2 linked regions of the Homo sapiens genome follow. The protein of the gene in region 2 purifies or fractionates together with the protein of the main gene of each other region. This does not show direct contact. Each region holds a gene or a part of one and is shown on either strand. Other genes may lie near its edges.

Region 1 (3,500 bases), on a different chromosome or scaffold from region 2:
TGAGGTCAGAAGTTCGACAAGCCTGGACAACATGGTGAAACCCTGTCTCTACTAACAATACAAATATTAGCCAGCTGTGGTGGCGCACGCCTGTAATCCAAGCTACTTGGAAGGTTGAGGCAGGAGAATCACTTGAAGCTGGGAGGTGGAGGTTGCAGTGAGTGGAGATCACACCACTGCACTCCAGCCTGGGTGACAAAGCAAGACTCCATCTCAAACAAACAAACAAAAAAGTATGCTGAAGAAGAATCCATCTACTCCAGTGCAGCTTTTCCAAAAATAGTTCTGTGTAAACTCAGTTTTCTATTTCTGCCCTAAAATCTATTTGGGGCAGGGGACACACCTGAAACAAAGTTGGCTTTGGATAACTTCGCTTACTTTCCTTTGAATACTTTGGATTCTGTTTAAAAGTATGATGAAAGCCGTGAACAACAATTAGTGCCATTAAATATATTAGCTATTTAATGCTCTAAATTATAAGGACAAAAATTAATTGGTTCAGAACTGCCTCTTTAATAGACTCTGTGGCTTCCCTTGACACTGGAGGATCTTTAAAATCCAGGTGTTGGGTGGGGATTTGTGAGGGGGAATGGTAACAGGGTTCAGAAGTGGAAACACGGTTTTAACAAAATTCCAGTCACTTTATACAGAGGCAGAGTCACATATCCCAAGAGCTGGTTCTTCTTTTATTTGGTTAAAAAGCACTAACTTGAATTTCAAAAGAAGGATAATAATGGAAATGACCGGAAGCTTCAACATGTAGTTTTAGGCTGGGCACAGTGGCTCATGTGTATAATCCCAGCACTTTGGGAGGCCGAGGCGAGTGGATCACTTAAGATCAGGAGCTCGAGACCAGCCTGGCCAAATAATGAAACCCTGTCTCTACTAAAAATACAAAAATTAACTGGGCATGGTGTGGTGCACCTGTAATCCCAGCTACTCGGGATGGTGAGGCACGAGAATCGCTTGAACCTGGGAAGCAGAGGTTGCAGTGAGCCAAGATCGCACCACTGCACTCCAGCCTGGGCAACAGAGTGAGACTTCATCTCAAAAAAAAAAGAAAAGAAAAGAAAAAACAAACATGCAGTTTTGATAATTTAGTCCTTAATTGAAGCACACTGTTTTTCTAAACTCTTATATTTATAGCAAAGCCTCTGGCTTTTAATGTAGGCTATATTTTATTCACTATTAATTTTGCATTAAGAAACTTATGTTTGCTAATTTCTATTTTTTCATTGTTTCTTGAAGATTTTTTAATGCTTCAACTTTTTACATATGTTTAAAATGATTTAAACAATATGCTCCAAATTAAATGAACAGAAGGAATTTTGAGAGATTTCCCCTTATGTAGCTATTCTCAGTGCACTCTGGTCAAATTTTACTTGGCAATAAATCCTTGCAAACGTCAGTCATGTAAGTGACTAACAAGACTGAAATACCACATTGAGTCACATACCAAATACAGTTTCAGAAAATGTAAACCTTTCCCCTGAAACTCTCCAATCATGTTAACTAGAACTATACTGTTTCTAATGATGGAACCTGTGAAATGCTGGGTTTTGAATGTAGTTAATAAAATAATTTTCTAGAATGCAAGAAACACTATTATCACAGTTATCACCCTATTTTAATGATTTACAAGTAGTTTATGCGCTTTCCATCACTATAAAGTATGGGCCAGTTGAAAATTGGCCGGGCATGGCGGCTCACGCCTGTAATCCCAGCACTTTGGGAGGCTGAGGTGGGCAGATCACGAGGTCAGGAGTTCGAGACCAGCCTGGCCAACATAGTGAAACCCCATCTCTACTAAAAATACAAAAATTAGCCGGGCATGGTGGTGCGCGCCTGTAGTCCCAGCTACTCAGGAGGCTGAGGCAGGAGAATCACTTGAACCCCGGAGGTGGAGGTTGCAGTAAGCAGAGATTGTGCCACTGCACTCTAGCCTGGGCAACAAAGCAAGACTCCATCTCAAAAAAAACAAAAAACAAAAAAACAAAAAACAAAAACAAAAGATGAGCCGGTTGAAAACTAAGAAAGAAACAACGTTCTGCTTTTATGCTATAAACCACAAAAAATTTGTATATGGATCCAGGTACACAAAACTAAAATTTAGGTCTGCACAGGCAGTATCTGTGTTCATATATCTTTGGCACTCATACAAAGATACTGGTTTAAACCAACAGTGAATAATTTTTTTTCATATACTTTAGGAAATGTCTGTTCTCCAATTAAAAAATGCTATAATCTCCATTCTAAAAATTCACTGAGATAAACTGAAATCTATCAATTTAACCAGCTGTGATCCAAAAGTGTAATTAACGGCAGTCAGTGAAACAGGTATGGGATCTCTTTAAAAGTGTAAAAGTGGGTTGAGACCTTATATTTTTACATTTCAGACTTTAGATTTTAAAAAATCTTTTGGACAGTGCCTGATTTGTATGTATACCACAGTGTTAACTACGCCCTAGCATCTTGCAGTGTGGGACACACAATTAGCCTATGTCCCCAGTACTAGTATTTACCTGGGAAATACTCCATGGATGCACACATTCACACAGGCACATGCAGAGTTGTCTTTCCTCTGTGCTTCTACTGTTTCTTGCCATCCTCTTAATTTGGTTCTCTTGAAAAAGAGCAGTACCCAGTGCATATACTCTGGAGAGGTTCTCAAAGCTGGACAGTAAGTCCTCTGGCTCAGGAACTCTGCCCCCTAAAGCTGGGAGGAAAGCTGGTTGCTCCTAAACATGGCTTCCTTTCTAGAGGCTCGGGCCATAAAAATCTTATGTCTTTGGGAAAATATCCACAGTTTAGCTGTGGTCCACAAAGTGACTTTGTTTCTTTGATCCTAGTGTTACAATTAGAATGAGGGTTCTGGAGCAAGATATATTACACCAGAAAGCATTTTTCCTGGCTAGAGAAACCAGTATGTTTTTTTTTCATTTATACCCATTTACAACACAAATAATTAGCTTCTTCAGTATCATAATAGATACTCTAGGAAATACTTGAAGAAAGGCAGGTCCCTGAAGGTACAGATAACATGAACAAGAGGCAGTTATTTTTAATAAGGCTTAGTTCTATTTAGTCAGAACTTAAGGAGTACTTTAAACCTATCTGGAAGAAGAAATCAATAGGCTGCAATGTCATGTTCTACTTTTCCCATAGTGTTACTGAGGTTTCCAGGAAGGGAGGGAGCACTTTTGTTTTCATTTAGAAAGAAGATGAAAGTGAAAACAGAATAGTCAGATTACTGAAACCAAATGTCATCTTAAGAAGCGACCTTGTCAGCTTAGCTAAATAGTAATTCCTTCCAGTCATATTCCTCAATCCTTATCTGCTTCATAGGTTATATTATCAATGACAAAAAGGACTGTAACTCTGACATGGACAATGGCTACAGAAAACACTAATTTTTGATATTAAAATTATTCTTGATGGAATTGGTTAAATATACTATAAAACTTGGCTTATAATCAGGATAAATCTTAAACTTGAGGGTC
Region 2 (3,500 bases):
ATGGCACTTAGCATTGAGGATAATCTGGAGAGTGGAGATTAAACTGTAGCACTAGGCCTAGGGATGTGTAAGTTTAAGGGGAAGAAATGGAAACAGAATGCTATACTGCTGAGCATGCTGGAGGTGTGCATGACTGCTCACAAGTCCGGGGAAATAAGAATGTTCTTATATTTACCTTTCCCCTTAATATAGTTTAGCTCAAAGATTTACTGGCCTCCTGCTAGGTGCCAGGGTCTGTGCAAGGAGGGGCCTGGAATAGCATCTTTCAGGGAGCTACATCTTAGGGTTTTGGTGGTAATGGGTCACCCTTTGGAAATATGATGAAAGCAACGGCCCTCTCCTCCATAAAACTCACTTATACATGTACACACAAAATTTCTATAAAACTTCAGAGGTCCATTGTTCCACTTAGAGACCCATGAACTCCAGGTTGGACCCCTTGTTCTCCTCAGGGGAGCTAAGACACTCTTGCAGAGGCCAGGCCACAAGATTTTTAAGCTGGAAGAGCCCAACATGACACAAAAGGGATGAAAAACCACGGGCCCATGAATAAGAACCCAAAAGTAAAACCTTTAGAAAATTAAAGGAGGCATACATAGAGAAGATTTACCTGAGAGACAGAAATCAGAGGTGCAGGGATTGGGGAATCAGCACTTTTCATTTGGTAAGGAAGTGAACCACATGCAAATGAGTTACAACAGAATTCAAATGAGCCTCTGGTCTTTAGGCTCTCAGCCAAAGGAAAAGCTTTGGGTACTCCAAAAGCATCCAATTGCCTCGACCACCATACGTGGCCAGAACTGAACTAACAGGATGAAAATAAAAGTAACACTGCACATTTAATTTACCAATCCTCAGCCCACAAAGCCTCTCCCATCTACTACCTTATTTCATCCTGCCAATGATTCCACAAAGTAGTTTTACCACCCTCAAGTTACAAATGAAGAAAGTGAGGCTCAGGGAGGGCAAGTGACTTGCCCATGGTCACACAGCGAACAGGTGGCAGAGCCAGTCCTCACTGTGATCACTGCAACTACCACAGCAGGTGCAGCTCTCCCCCGCCCCACCCCTGCCCACACCCCCACCAGTCCCTGGCCTTGTCCAGTGCGGGAATAAGGGGAGGGCGGAGGGATGGCAGTGAATGCTCAGAGGGAAGGGAGAGACGAAGAGCCCACCTTGCTCATGTCCTTGAGCTCCTCCTCCTGCTCCATCCGCAGCTTGTTGGCTCTCTGCAGGAGGTTCTGGGCCCGTTCCTTGGCCACCTCCTCCAGGTCACTGAGCTTCTTGTTGTTGTTCCACACCATCTCCTTCTGTTTCATGATCTTCTTTCGTGTCATCACTGCATCCTAAGGGAGACCAGTCTGGCTCAGTGGGAGATTATTTCATGCGCTCTGTGCCCTGGGCGCTAGCCTGGCTACCACAGGTGACCCAGTACAATTTTGCCTTGGCCAGTGATGATGTCAGAGCCAAGAAGTTCCACAGCCTGGCTTCATTCTCAGCCCTCCCCTTGGCCCCGGCTGCTCCCACCTCTCATCTCAGGTATTGCTCTTTGGTCTCCTTTCTGTAATATTTCTTCATTAAGTACATAATTTGTGCCTCATTTCAGGGTCCCCTGATGAGAGTTCCCCAGTGCATTTTGATTCTGCCACCCATCTGCAGAGGTGAAGGCTTAGGGAGGTTAACTACCATGGTGGCTTCCTTCTCCTTCTTGAAGGCCTGGTCCCTGGCCTCAAGTTCTTCTCTGGTCAGGACATGGGATGCCCATTTGATTCGCTCAAACTCCTCAGGGCTGATGATTAGGGACTCCCCGGAGGGATCCTCTGTGGGAACACTGTCACAAGAATAAACAGAGTTAGGGAGGGGAGAGGGAAAGCTCTCAGCACCACACTTCAGGCTTCTCTGCTCTCTTCCCCTCTTCCCATCATGCCAGTGGACTCCCCCAATGGCAGAAGAGACGGCAAGTGTGCCATGGGTCCACTGGGGAGTAGATGTTCCAAGTGGGGGGTCAGGTAGCATTGAAGGCTAAAAAGAGACATTTTAAGTCCTTTTTCTATTAGGTCCTGCTCATATGTTACCTTCTCTGTGCAGCTGAGACCCCCCATCATGTCCACATGTGCCCACTCTGCCCCCCCACCAAGGACCAATAGATCACCTCCTCCTCTGAGCCCACACTGCACTCTGTTCTTACTGCCTGTATCACAGCCAATTGGGCAGCTCTGTTTCCTTTATGAGCTCCTTCAGGACACAAACTCTGTCTTAACCACACTGGTAGCCTAGTCTCTGGCATAGCGCTTGGTACAGAGTGAGAATTCAAAACAAAGCTGTTGAATTAAATTTTAAAAACAGATTATTCCTCAAGGATGACATAAAAACGGCAAGGGGACGCCAGACAAGGTTGATATAGATGCTAGTTAGAAACCTAAGCTTCCCTGCCCATCCAGCCTAGAGAGAAGCTTTGAACTGTAAATATTAATTAAAATCTGTGATCAACAATAGCCAGAGACATGTCTATAGACCTCTCCTTTCTAGCTATCCAACGCATTCAACAAACCAATCGCTAATTATAATGATTACAAGCAAATGACATATATTAAAGATGGGGGAGGGAGTAGTTAGGGGGGTGGGAAGAAAGCTGCTTCTGGGTGAGGCAGGTACATGCCAATTTGACAGGTACATGCCAATAAGACACAGACATCTGAGACAGGAAGTGAAACCTCATCTAATAAAACTAATGTGTGTGTGTTGGGGGAGGGTGGTCCAGGAGATGGACAGAATGAGTGAGTAGATTTGCAGCTTAGCCAAGATCTTGTGTTTCACAAAGCAACGTGGCCCTAAACAGCCTAGGATCTGGAGTGACCAGCAGTGATCCGAATCTAAGACAGCAGTTTATACTGCTTTCAGCATCCCTGAAAAATAACCAGCCACTTGTCCTCCAACGTGTTTTCAGGACTAGATGGCTCCAAGAAGGAACCCTTCCTCCCTTCCTCTGGCTCCAGGAGTGGCTGCAGGGCTCTAGCCACATCTGGCCACTTGATGCCACGGCTGACCAGACATGCTCAGTAAGGGGCCGCAGTCCGACACAGCTCCCGGGGTGTGTGCTAGATGTGCCTCTCCAGCTTGTGACACAGGTAGGATTTTCTGGGAATTAGGGCTTTTAGTGGGTGGAGCCAGGGCAGGGAGAACGGTTGTAGAGGGTGAAGCACTAACACAAGAGTTAAACCACTGAGCACAGTGTTGGCTCATGGCACATGGTTGAGCTAGGCCTAAGTCCCACAGGATGGGCTCAAGCCTGGGGGCAGCTCTAGTCAGGAAGTGGGGTTGAGCTAATCCCAAAGGAACCCAGGGAGCCCCTGTGAATTTCTTCCTATGGCCTTAGAGTCTGGGAGGAAGCCAGGGGGCTAATTAGGCATCTGGTCAGTTTCCCTTTGCTTCAGATTCTTAATGCAGCCGAAAGGAAGTGACTCATCTGGATCACTTCCCTTTAGGGAGGGTACTAATGG

The links.
Region 1: the proteins of CFAP45 (region 2) and SAR1B purify together in Homo sapiens (affinity purification with mass spectrometry; one large-scale study listed by BioGRID and IntAct). This does not show direct contact.

The regions. Positions count from the first base shown.
Region 1 is NC_000005.10:134,601,829-134,605,328, forward strand, and holds part of SAR1B (small COPII coat GTPase SAR1B), read right to left. Parts: 3' UTR 1-3,500. UniProt on the Homo sapiens protein: Small GTPase that cycles between an active GTP-bound and an inactive GDP-bound state and mainly functions in vesicle-mediated endoplasmic reticulum (ER) to Golgi transport.
Region 2 is NC_000001.11:159,886,666-159,890,165, forward strand, and holds part of CFAP45 (cilia- and flagella-associated protein 45), read right to left. Parts: intron 1,832-3,500; coding exon 1,687-1,831; intron 1,347-1,686; coding exon 1,176-1,346; intron 25-1,175; coding exon 1-24. UniProt on the Homo sapiens protein: Microtubule inner protein (MIP) part of the dynein-decorated doublet microtubules (DMTs) in cilia axoneme, which is required for motile cilia beating.